Regions from separate parts of the Homo sapiens genome. Here all the other regions are linked to region 2. Evidence: fine-mapped expression QTL. A gene starts in region 2. Each other region holds a variant in brackets. All regions are shown on one strand. Distances are from middle to middle. Region 1 overlaps CTSS (cathepsin S). Region 2 holds the start of CTSK (cathepsin K). Region 3 overlaps SETDB1 (SET domain bifurcated histone lysine methyltransferase 1).

The links. PIP is the estimated chance that this variant, and not a neighbour inherited with it, causes the effect. A credible set is the group of variants that fine-mapping cannot tell apart.
Region 1: its variant is the best candidate, but not a certain one, in a credible set for the expression of CTSK in whole blood (TOPMed, PIP 0.69).
Region 3: its variant is the best candidate, but not a certain one, in a credible set for the expression of CTSK in whole blood (INTERVAL, PIP 0.76).

What each region holds. Positions count from the first base shown.
Region 1 is chr1:150,749,675-150,753,915 of GRCh38, forward strand. CTSS (cathepsin S) reads right to left here. Exons shown (of 8, transcript NM_004079.5): 5 at 2,107-2,334; 6 at 332-497. Among named protein-coding and RNA genes, the nearest start is that of CTSS, 14 kb to the right of the region's middle. RefSeq lists an enhancer at 1-82. The variant G/A (reference allele first, on the strand shown) is at 2,381.
Region 2 is chr1:150,806,348-150,810,552 of GRCh38, forward strand. CTSK (cathepsin K) reads right to left here and starts at 1,913. Exons shown (of 8, transcript NM_000396.4): 1 at 1,867-1,913; 2 at 339-459. The coding sequence starts at 458. ARNT (aryl hydrocarbon receptor nuclear translocator) reads right to left here. Exons shown (of 22, transcript NM_001668.4): 22 at 3,366-4,205.
Region 3 is chr1:150,946,015-150,950,255 of GRCh38, forward strand. It overlaps SETDB1 (SET domain bifurcated histone lysine methyltransferase 1), which reads left to right. Exons shown (of 22, transcript NM_001366418.1): 10 at 872-998; 11 at 3,108-3,264; 12 at 3,353-3,511. Among named protein-coding and RNA genes, the nearest start is that of SETDB1, 22 kb to the left of the region's middle. RefSeq lists an enhancer at 3,950-4,094 and a cis regulatory region at 4,022. The variant C/A (reference allele first, on the strand shown) is at 2,095.

The sequences.
Region 1 (4,241 bases), 57 kb before region 2:
GTTTTCACTCTGTTGCCCAGGTTGGAGTGCAGTGGTATGATCATAGCTCACTGTAACCTCAAATTCCTGGGTTCAAGGAGTCCTCCTGCCTCACCCTCCCAAGTAGCTGAGACTACAAGTGAGTGTCACCATATCCGGCTAATTTTTATTTTTATTTTTCGTAGAGATAAGGGTCTCGCGATGTTGCTCAGGCTGGTGTCAAACTCCCAGGCTCAAGCAATCCTCCCACCTCAGCCTCCAAAGCTAGAATTACAGGCATGAACCACCGTGCTCAGCCAATATCCTTTCTTTCTTTCTTTAAATTCTAATTATTGTTTATTTTATTTTTTACCACTTCTGTAGAGGAAGAAAGAAGGATGACGCGCATCTACACCAACAGACACTGGGCCTTTATTGGCCACAGCTTCTTTCAGGACATCTTCTCTGCCATAAGGAAGTTCAGTGTACTTTGAACATGTGGCAGCACGATATTTTGAGTCATATTGACATTTCTGATCCTGCAAAAAGAAGTATAAATATGATGAAGTATACTTCAACTCCTGTATAAATCACCTGTATCCTAAGCCTGGATTTTAAATGTCTCCCTTCCTTTCTTTAACTTTTTCATGTGTCTAAGGCTCCTTCCTTTGCAAATCTTCCAAATCCTAACAGTCCCGGGTTTCAGCAATAATGGAGGAAATACAGAACTATTCTATTCTTTCAAATTGTGAACATCCTCATACATGCAAAACTTGCCAGGACAATGGCCCCTCAGACTTTCAGGTGGACTGTAGGGAAATATTACATAGAGATAATAAACTCTAGATGAGAGCTTTAAAATCTTTTTGATGCCTGCAAGATGATCTGCAGCTAAAATGATGGTATATAAAGACCATATAATATGGGAAACACAAGTATTTCAAGTGGGAAAAGGAAAGTTACAAATTCATGTTTGTTGTATATACAACTATTTTGTATTTATTTATATTATTTATTTTTTTGAGATAGGCTCTCACTCCATTGTCCAGGCTGGAGTGCAGTAGCATAATCATGGCTCACTGCAGCCTCCAACTCCTGGGCCAAGTGATTCTCCCACCTCAGCTTCCTGAGTAGCTGGAACTGCTACTCAGGTGTGCACCACCATGCCTGGCTAATTTTTTTGATTTTTAGTAGAGGTGAGGTCTCACTATGTTGCACAGGCTGGTCTCAAACTCTTGAGCTCAAGCAATCCTCCCACCTCGACCTCCCAAAGTGCTGACATTACAGGTGTGAGCCACCACACTTGGCCAACTATGTTTTTTAAGTGCTTAACAAGAAAATAACTTGAAAGAAATAAACCAAAACAATAGTGGTTAAGGTAGAAGGTTTTTGAGTGATATTTTTATATTTTTAAAATCTTCTGTAACATGGACACAATCCTTAGGTTATCGTTATATCAAAATGTATAATGAATTTCTGAGGAAGAGGAGAGTGTTATTTAGCTTCTCAGTGGGTGGAAGAATGATGTGGTTAATGATCTGAGAATAAGGTTGAGCATGGGAGGCTGCAGAAGAAAAAGTTTAAATACAGAGAAATAATTTTAAGGATAGTTTGCTTAAAATCTGTTTAATTTTGGGATGGAGTCTTGCTCCGTTGCCGAGGCTGGAGTACAGTGGCGTGATCTCGGCTCACTGCACCTCCACCTCCTGAGTTCAAGCGATTCTCCTGCTTCAGCCTCCCGAGTAGCTGGGACCACAGGCATGCACCACCATGCCTGGCTAATTTTTGTATTTTTGGTAGAGACAGGGTTTCACCACGTTGGCCAGGCTGGTCTCAAACTCCTGACCTCAGGTGATCCACCCACCTCGGCCTTCCAAAGTGCTGAGATTATAGGTATGAGCCACTACGCCCAGTCATTAAAATCTGTTTTTAAGCATGAATGCTACTTCCTTATTTGTACTACTGATATATTAAGAAGAGTACTTCATCAGAAACAGAACTCTTGAGAATTTAAGAATTCCTCTTCAGGGTTCTCTCTCACACACAATACTGCTTCTCAAGCAATTGGCATGGTGGCAAGCCCAGCACAGTCAGTCAGTGGATAACATGAGATCATGGGGCAGCACAAAAAGTTTGCTTAAGACGCACCATGGCTTTGTAGGGATAGGAAGCGTCTGAGTCGATGCCCTTGTTATCAATGATGTACTGGAAAGCCGTTGTCATGAAGCCACCATTGCAGCCTTTGTTTCCATATTTTTCAGTTGAGCAATCCACCAGGTTCTGGGCACTGAGAGACACCAGCTTTCCTGTTTTCAGCTTCAGCTGTGCTTCCAGGGCCCCCACAGCACTGAAAGCCCAGCAAGCACCACAAGAACCCTAAAACAGATACAAGGTCACAAACGCAAATCACAGAAAATCATTC[G/A]GAATGACTTCCATAACCCAAACTGGACAACGCTCAGCTACATCAGTTCTGTCCCTAGTTCCCAGAAAGAGCTCCCCCACTACAGTTTCCTTCTGTCTTTAACAATGGGAATGAAGACTAAATTTAACTCAATTGTTATCTAGGCAAGGTCCAACCTTGATAGAGATTTGCAATCAGCCAAGCTCAGAACATAATGGCCATATTCAAATATACTTAGAAACAATACTCACTGAGCATGTACCAAATTGCACCTATTTTCACCCATAAGTAAGGGAGATAGTTGCCTACAGTAATGAGATTTTGAGAGAGCTAGGATGATTTCCTTGACCTAAAATACCCTTTCTCCTGTCATATGATGCCTGAAACATAAGAAGTTTAATCCTAGGTTGGCATTTTTCAAACCTTTGTTATCTTCAGAATTTTTTTGATTAAAAAATATTTTACAAGGAGGCATAAACAAACAAAAAAAGGCAAAGCTGCTTTAGTTTTAAAAGGGGCAGAGTGTCCAGAGCCCCATCATAATTGTTCTCTTTCTCTCTCCTTCCCTCCTCCCACCTTGCTCTCCACCAAAAGGAAGCAAACTGACATTGCTTTTGATTGAAGCAAAATTGTTCATTAAAATGCAAGCACCCAGAGAAAGGAGCTCATTAACTTACTCAGAGTTAACATCTAAATATGTGGTTTATTGGGTCTTCTAAAAGCTGTTATTTTAGAGAACCTCGGGTAAGAAATCCAAAACTAATTGAAAGAAAAATATGTAGGTGGAAAAGAATAAGAGATTAGCAGTACCATTTACTTCTTTTTGTTTGTTTGTTTTGAGACAGGGTTTCCTTCTGTCACTCAGACTGAAGTGCAGTGGTGTGATCATGGCTCACTGTAGCCTCAACCTCCCAGGCTCAAGCGATCCTCCCATCTCAGCCCCTCAAGTAGCTGGGACTACAGGAGCGCACCATGCCTGGCTAATTTTTATTTTTATTTTTTGTAGAGTCAGGGCCTCACTATATTGCCTAGGTTGGTTTCTAACTCCTGGGCTCAAGCGATCCTTCTGCCTCTGCCTCCCAAAGTGCTGGAATCACAGATGTGAGCCACTGTGCCTGGCCACCATTTACTTCCTAATAAATTTTTACTTTCTTCATTGATCACAACCTGGGGTAGCTGCTCAGAATGCTTTGATTCCTCTCACTTACCCTGACCTCTATGGTGATACATGTGTTTTACCTCTAACTAATTTAGGATTTTTGCAATTTTTTTAAAACAAGCAAACTAAAGGAAAATACAACAGCATAGGAACAATAATTTTACAAGGCACATATTTCATATTCTAACGATGCAAGACTAGCCATGAATTAACTTGAGTGGCTCAATTTATAGAACACTCTATCTCTAGTTCTTTCTTCTCCTTCAACTTTGAAACTCACAAGTGAAATGGAGAAACTTCCTGATCACCAGGGCTCTCTCACACAACACTGCTTCTCAAGCAATTGGCTTATTGGAGAGTCCAGTGCAGTCAATGCATAGCGTGAGCAATAAAAGTCTGTGTTAAACACCTATTTGCTTAGTTCAGTGTTTGTCTAAGTAGGTGGCTCTATGATCACTTAGAAAAGCACTGTGGGGGCTGAACACGAGGGCTCATGCCTATAATCCCAGGACTTTGGGAGGTGGAGGTAGGAGGATCACTTGAGCTCAGGAGCTTGAGATCAGCTTGGGCAACATGGCAAAACCCATCTCTGCTAAAAATACAAAGAAAAAAAAAGTGGTGGTGTGTGCCTGTAGTCACCGTGTAGGCTGAGATGGGAGGATCACTTGAGCCCAAGAGGCAGAGGTTGCAGTGAGCCCAGATCGCACCACTGCAGTCCAGCCT
Region 2 (4,205 bases):
AACCATGGAATTAAGAGCCTGCAAGAAGAGATAATATGTAAACAAATACAACACAAAGCTCTGGAGAGACAGAAAAATTGCTTATAGATTAACAGCATTAATCTTAGAACTCTTCCCAAAAGAGAAATGTAACACACTTATAAAGCAAAGGAAGGATACAGTTTGACAGAGGATGATTTGAAGCATAGGAATGAAAACCGTATGTTAACATGAGTTAGGGAAGAGGGACTGATTTGCTTGGAATAAAGCATTTGGATTGAAGAAGGGAGTCTGGAAGCTAAGATGAGAGAGCTCAGGTCTCAGCCTTCCTGCCATGCCCCCTCCAGGACCCCAGGCACCTTGTTGTTATATTGCTTCCTGTGGGTCTTCTTCCATAGCTCCCAGTGGGTGTCCAGTATCTCCTCAGGGTACAGAGCAAAGCTCACCACAGGTAGCAGCAGAACCTTGAGCCCCCACATCCTGCAGAAGAATGTAGTTAGGGAAAACTCTTCCATTTGGCAGGGAAACAGAGGAAAACTAGGCTTTATGAGGAAGAGAAAGGTAGACGGAAAAAGGGTGATAAAACAATGATAGTCAGGAGGGGCCTGTGTTTAGATAGGATGCTGGTACATCTGGTTCCAAGGACTTTGATCTAGGGGGATTTAGCCATTTCTCTCTTTCTCTCTCTCTCTCTCTCTCGGGAGATTTAGGCAACACACACTCTCTCTGTTTCTCTCTCTGTCTCTCTCTCTCTCACACACACACACACACACACACACACACACACACACACACACACGTACACAACCAGAAATGGGGGATAGAAACTGGACAATCAGAATGGGCTCAGTGCGTTTCCTCCAGGGTCCCTAGCAGGCTTGGAGACAGACAAATAGCAAGGTGGTAGTGGGGTTCAGAATACACAAAGGAGAGATTTCCGTCTAAGTTTTGCCTCCTGATCATTTCTTCGAGGCGTTCTTCTCTTTCGTGCCTAAATTCTGGTACTTTCCCAGATCTTGTCAGAAGAGGACAAGGGAAAATAGGACAATGTTTCCTGTTTTCTGAGACATTGTATATCTCCTCATTCTCCTTATGCATTTCTTCTTCCTTTTTCTCTCCCTTCCCTCCTTAGGCAGGAAACTGCCCTAATCTTAACCAGATGCTGCGGGCAAGGTTTTTTATTTTTCCCCTAACAACAAAAACCCACTGTGGCTGCCGCAAAGGACAAGAAGCCTCAGATCCAAGGTTTGTTAGAAGAATGTTCAGACTGAAAAGCAATGTTCTATGATGATGAAATTCACAGCTTTTCATAAGTTTACTCTAGTTAGCTTCACTCATTTCTTGCATTGGCTTTCTTAATTACAAATCCTCCATTTTAAGAACAATTTGCAGCCTGCAGCATGACATATGGCTTACACAATTGCTTATAGTCCATTTACATGTAATTTTGCAAACTGGCAAAATGTCCAGTAGGACATTTAAAAACTAGAGTGTTAAGGGCTTTGAGATGTCTCAGTGAACAGGAAGCACTGAGCTACTACCTCCCCATACCACTCTCCTCCTCCTCACTAAGGAGTTAACCGTTTTGATCCTTGTTGGCCAAAGTAGAAAACACTGCAGAAAGGCCACTCTTGAAGGATGGGGAAATGATTCCCTATATACTTTGCTTTTACTAACAATCATGTATGTATATATATAAATCATACAAGGAATTCTACAGATTTCCAGGCAGATTTTATTTAGCCAGGGAATGACCTAAGAAGTGCATCTCTGTTTTCATCTGCAGAGGCTAAAAGTTTATTGTGATCCTCAAGTCACTACATCCCTAATACTCAGAGAATTGACAGGAATGAAAAGCTAAAAGATCTAGGAAGTTGCAAACGTTACCTGCTGATGGAAATCTGTTGTCTGGCTTCGTTTCGGCAGCAAAGTGTGGGCACACCATCAGGGGTGCTAGATTTATTCCATCGGGATTGCGGAAGTCAGCTCCAGTGATCGGCTGGAAAATTTGGGTAAGAGGAGGAGGCGGGGATAGAAATGCTGAGAGAAGGAAGGGTAGGGAGGAGGGAAGGAGGCAGTGGATTTGCAGTGTTTCTGTGTGTATGCAGCATGTGTGCCAGGGTAGGGAATTACTAGCTATTTAGTCTCACAAGACTGTCTTTGGTGGCAAATAACAAGACCTCAATATCTATTGACTCAAATAGGAGCTTACTTTCTCTTTTGGTGAGTAAAAGGAAGGACACAGCCCTAGTCTCTCCCATCCTTCTTCTTCAATATCTTTATTTTAATATTGGGGGATTATATCTTTTCCTACCCCTTTCCTGTTAGGATTTACCTCTCCAACATTGAAACCTATTTTCATATTTGTGTCTGACTCTCACCTCTGGGATGCGGTAATGAACATAAAAGGCTATAAAAGAATAATGTAATGGAAGCCATAGGCTCCAGAATTCTTTGTATTTTTATAAGCTTGTTGGTTGCAAGTTGTCATTACTTCCAGGCAGAATAGTTTTCCCAGCCTAATGTGGTTTTGCTGAAGGAGGATATGCCCAGAAAGTCCAGATGAAACTGTCTTTAAAAGTAACCAAAAACAGCAGTCCTGGTTATTTATGACAGCACTTGAATCAATGCCGTAAGTTCTGATGGACTCACATGTGACTCTGTTGCTAAAACTCTCAGGTGGTGGGATGCCCGATAAACATCATCTGTCTCAATTAAAATCCCCAATCTAGGACAAGTCACATGAGCTTCTCCAAATGCTTCCCCAACATCCAAGCATGTGACAGATCATAAGAATCTAGCTGATTCCTCAAACCACACCCCAAACTTCATTTTCTTCCATAAACAGATGTGGGGAAGGAGAAAAAAAGGCTTCTTGGAATAGAAAGGATAATAAATGGGATCTGTAATAGACTCAGTTTCTAGCTGGATTCCATGCATAAACCCTCAAAAATACAGGCTTATGCCTCTGGATTTTAAGAGCTGCTAACAGGCTAGGCGCAGTGGTTCACGCCTGTAATCCCAGGCCTTTGGGAGGCCAAAGCATGTGGATCACCTAAGGTCAGGAGTTCGAGACTAGCCTGGCCAACATATAGTGAAACCCCATCTCTACTAAAAAAAAAAAACACAAAAATTAGCTGGGCATGGTGGCACACACCTGTAGTGCCAGCTACTTGGGAAGCTGAGGCAGGAGAATTGCTTGAACCCAAGGGGCAGAGGTTGCAGTGAGCCAAGATCGTGCCACTGCACTCCAGCCTGGGTAACAGAGCGAGACTCCATCTCTCACACACACACACACACACACACACAAAAAAAAAAAAAAAAAAAAAAGTTGCTAATGAACCAACATAGTCTCCTAGAGGGAAACCAGGTCCAGACTTGAACAGTTTAAATTTCACTCATTTTAATCCAGAAAAGGACATACTGGGGGAAGGCATCCAGATGTGCCCTAGTGGTTTTCAAGTCCCGACTCTTCCCCTCTCTCCCAAGAACCCAGGCAACGCCCACCCCAAAACCCCCACCTCATGGTCAGAGCATTCCTGCTGATGTTACTCAGAATGTGTCAGGATCAGGAGGACAAGTGAGGGGGGAGGCGTGCAATGTGATCAGAACCCTATGATTTCTGATTCCTGAAATTAAAGACACAATGTGCCTTATGTTTGTATGTCTGGAGCTTAAACTATAGATTCCTCTGGTTGTGGGTGCCTGTTGTTTATGAACTGGAAAGGAATGATAAAGCCGCAATCAAGATCACACAACACAAGAAATTTTACAAAAGGAAAAAATATTTTGTTTGAAAATCTTTGCTACATGTCATTATTTTTGCCACTGTAAAGCTTAGCACAGATGCCAGCAATACAGAAATGGCCAACAAGAAAACAAAACAGTCAAAAATAAAACCCTGAAGGAAAAGCAAAAACAAAACCCCCAGAGCATCTTCTCGCTATCCTCCCCTTCCCCAAAAGCCCTATAATAACTGTACAATATTATAGTCCTGATCACATTTAAAAAGTCGATTATTAAAAAACAAGGGTTCCATTGGAAACTCAACTTTTTGGTTTCGTAAATTGTGATATAAATATATATGTATACTGTAAGTGTGCACATAGAATAAAAAAATAAACTGTCTCCTTTTTTACTCCACTACCTGGCACCAGACTGGAGACATAAGGAAGGGAAACTCAGCAAATGGACATTCCTTTGGCCTCTTCAAGGCCACCCTTGCT
Region 3 (4,241 bases), 140 kb after region 2:
TTTGTTTTGTTTTGTTTTGTTTTTTGAGACAGTCTCACTCTGCCACCCAGGCTGGAGTGCAGTGGTGCAATCACAGCTCACTGCAGCCTCAACCTCCAGGGTTCAAGTGGTCCTCCCACATCAGCCTCCCAAGTAGCTGTGACTACAAGTGCATGCCACCACACCTGGCTGATTTTTGTATTTTTAGTAGAGACGGGTTTCGCCATGTTGCCCAGGCTGGTCTCGAACTCCTGAGCTCAAGCAGTCTGTCTGCCTCATCCTTTCGACATACCAGGATTATAGGTGTGAGCTATTGTGCCCAGCTGTCATACCTCTTATACTCAGTATAGATATCTGTTGCTCCTGTAATTCCTTAAACAAGGAGTATATATTTTTCATTGTTGTGTTCCTGATACCCATCATGGATCCTGGCACATACTTTATTAAGTAGATAAGGAATTTTTTTTTGGGGGGGATGGAGTTTCGCTCCTGTTGCCCAGGCTGGAGTACGATGGTGCAGTCTCGGCTCACCACAACCTCCGCCTCCCTGGTTCAAGCAATTCTCCTGCCTCAGCCTCCCGAGTAACTGGGATTACAGGCATGCGCCACCACACCCGGCTAATTTTGTATTTTTAGTAGAGACGGGGTTTCTCCATGTTGGTCAGGCTGGTCTTGAACTCCCAACCTCGGGTGATCCACCTGCCTCAGCCTCCCAAAGTGCTGGGATTACAAGCTACAGGCGTGAGCCACTGTGCTTAGCTTAGACTAAGGAATTTAAGGCTCATCAGGGAGGATTCCCAGAGGTGACACATGGTATATATCCTCTACACAGGACAGGATAGATTCTAGCCTTTAAGCTATTTCCCTTCATTCTTTTCTCTCAATTCCCCAGGATGACAAAAGATGTGAGTGGATCTATCGAGGCTCTACACGGCTGGAGCCCATGTTCAGCATGAAAACATCCTCAGCCTCTGCACTGGAGAAGAAGCAAGGACAGCTCAGGACACGTCCAAATATGGGTATGTCCTGAAAGATTCCTGGAGGAAGGAAGAAACAGGCCAACCAGCAAAGGAGATTATATACAATGGCTATCCTTTGATTAGCATGGTTACACTGTATACTCATTGGAAACAGGATATGTGCCCTGAGTTGTTTCCAATCATGGTGATCAATTTGTGCTGCTGCTTCCACATGCTGTGGCTCTAATTTGTTCTAAACAACCACATAAAAATCTGAAACAGTTGGCTTTAGGTTAGGGTGATAGTAGTTACCCTCTGTTATCCACATGAGAATTGTCAGTTTTGTGTGTTATCTATGGTTAGTTTTTTCTTTTTCTTTTTTTTTTAAATAGACCCGGGGCTTGATATGTTACCCAGGCTGGTCTTGAACTCCTGGGCTCAAGCTGTCTACCTGCCTCGGCTGCCCAAAGTGCTAGGATTACAAGTATGAGCTACCACATCCAGCGTATAGTCAGTTTTCTTTAAAACCCAGACCTGGCCAGGCACAGTGGCTGACATCTATAATCCCAACACTTTAGGAAGCTGAGACAGGTAGGTGGTTTGCTTGAGCTGAGGAATTCAAGACCAGCCTGGGCAACATGGTGAAACCCTGTTTCTACAAAAAAACACAAAAATTAGCTGGGTACAGTGGCATTAAGCTGTAGTCCAGGCTACTCAAGAAGTTGAGGTGGGAGGATCAATTGAAGCCAGGAGGTCGAGGTTGCAGTGAGCTAGATCGTGCCACTGCACTCCAGCCTGGGTGACAGAACGAGACCCTGTCTCAGAAACAAACAAAAAACAGATTTGGTTTTCTTTTTTAATATTACTGTCATACTTTCTGGTTGATTTTTCCTGCCAAAATTAGTTGGTTAAAGAATATATTTCTGAAAATATTTCCCCAAAGTATAACATAATTAGGTAAATCATCTGAGATAGGAAGATATAAAGTCTTATCTAAGGCCCAGCATGGTGGCTCGTGTCTGTAGTCTCAGCACTTTGGGAGGCTGAGGTGGGAGTATCACTTGAGGCCAGGAGTTGGAGATCAGTCTGGGCAACATAGAAAGACTCTTATCTCTTAAAAAAAAAAAATGCTGAGTGTGGTGGTGTGCACCTGTAG[C/A]CTTAGCTACTCTGGAGGCTGAGGCAGGAGGATTGCTTGAAGCCCAGGATTTCAAGGTTACAATGAGCTAAGGTCACACCGCTGCACTTCAGCCTGAGTAACAAAGTGGAACACTGTCTATAAAAAGAAAAAAAAGAGGCTACTCTGCCGACAGAGTAGCAATTTTTTTTTTTTTTTTTTGAGATGGAGTCTGGTTCTTTTGCCCAGGCTGGAGTGCAGTGGCACCATCTCAGCTCACTGCAACCTCCGCCTCCCGGGTTCCAGCAATTCTCCTGCCTCAGCCTTCCGAGTAACTGGGGTTACAGGCGACTGCTACCATGCCAGGCTAATTTTTGTATTGTTAGTAGAGACGGGATTTCTCCATGTTGGCCAGGCTGGTCTTGAACTCCTGACCTCAGGTGATCTGCCCGCCTCAGCCTCCCAAAGTGCTGGGATTAAAGGCATGAGCCACCGCGCCTGGCCGTTATTCTTTTATTCCTTTACTTTGTGAATAAACTTGCTTTCACTTTAATAAAAGAAAAAGTATTATCTAAGTCAAAAAACAATGTATGCCAGCGTCCATGCCAGTCAATAATGGGAACTGAGAGTCTAAGCACTTACTCAAAATGTGTCCATTGCTGCTTTTTTTTTTTGAGACGAAGTCTTGTTCTGTTGCCCAGGCTGGAGTACAGTGATGTGATCTCGGCTCACTGCAACCTCCACCTCCTGGTTTCAAGTGATTGTCCTGCGCCTTCCGAGCAGCTGGAATTACAGATGTGCACCACCATGCCCATCTAATTTTTGTATTTTTAGTAGAGACGGGGTTTCACCATGTTGGCCAGGCTGGTCTCAAACTCATGACCTCAAGCAACCTGCCCACTTCGGCCTCCCAAACTGCTGGGATTACAGGCAAGAGCCACTGCGCCCAGCCATTGCTTCCTTTTTATATTGTATAAGTTAAGGATCAGATGTGTGACTGAATACAAGCGTCATAGCTATCATCTTCTCAGTGCTCAATTTCCTTTTTCCTATAGGTGCTGTGAGGAGCAAAGGCCCTGTTGTCCAGTACACACAGGATCTGACCGGTACTGGAACCCAGTTCAAGCCAGTGGAACCCCCACAGCCTACAGCTCCACCTGCCCCACCTTTCCCACCTGCTCCACCTCTATCCCCCCAAGCAGGTGACAGTGAGTGAGTGTTATTCTTTCTTTTTCTTCAGTTTCTTTCATATTATATTTTCCACATCCCTTACTATATGCCCTCTTCTCTAATCTCCTAGAAGCTTGGAAAGCCAGCTTGCCCAGTCACGGAAGCAGGTAGCCAAAAAGAGCACGTCCTTTCGACCAGGATCTGTGGGCTCTGGTCATTCCTCCCCTACATCTCCTGCACTCAGTGAAAATGTCTCTGGTGGGAAACCTGGGATCAACCAGACATATAGGTGAGAAAATCTGAGGCTCTCTGTAGGCAGGATAGCAATGAGTGGTCACTGTGTAGGGGAAGGTTCCTTGGCTGTAAGCGAAGGGCTTAGTTTAAGCTTATGATAGTGAGGAGTTTGGACTTGAAAAGGAAGCTTTACCCATAGAAGTTCCTAAGAAATAGAAAGTAAGAATAATTGAATTGGAAGCTGGGTGCTTGGAAATATGGTATCATCTGAAAGCCATTTGTTAAAACTTCTTGTTGAACATGGTGCCATCATTGCTAAAATAGAAAGGAAACACCACAGCCTCTTTCCTTGGAGTTAGTAAGGACATTTTTAGAACACGCAGCAGACCAAAAAAACATTGGTAGAAGACTGGATTCTACTTCCATAATTCACAGGCAAATACATTTTAGGAAAAGGTATACTGTTGAAATAGAGATGTTAGGCCGGGCGCGGTGGCTCATGCCTGTAATCCCAGCACTTTGGGAGGCCGAGGCGGGTGGATCACCTGAGGTCGGGAGTTCGAGACCAGCCTGGCCAACATGGAGAAACCCTGTCTCTACTAAAAAATACAAAATTAGCCAGGCGTGGTGGCGCATGCCTGTAATCCCAGCTACTCAGGACGCTGAGGCAGGAGAATCGCTTGAACCCAGGAGGCAGAGGTTGTGGTGAGCCAAGATCGTGCCATTGTACTCCAGCCTAGGCAAAAAGAGCGAAACTTGTCTCAAAAAAAAAAAGAGAAATAGAG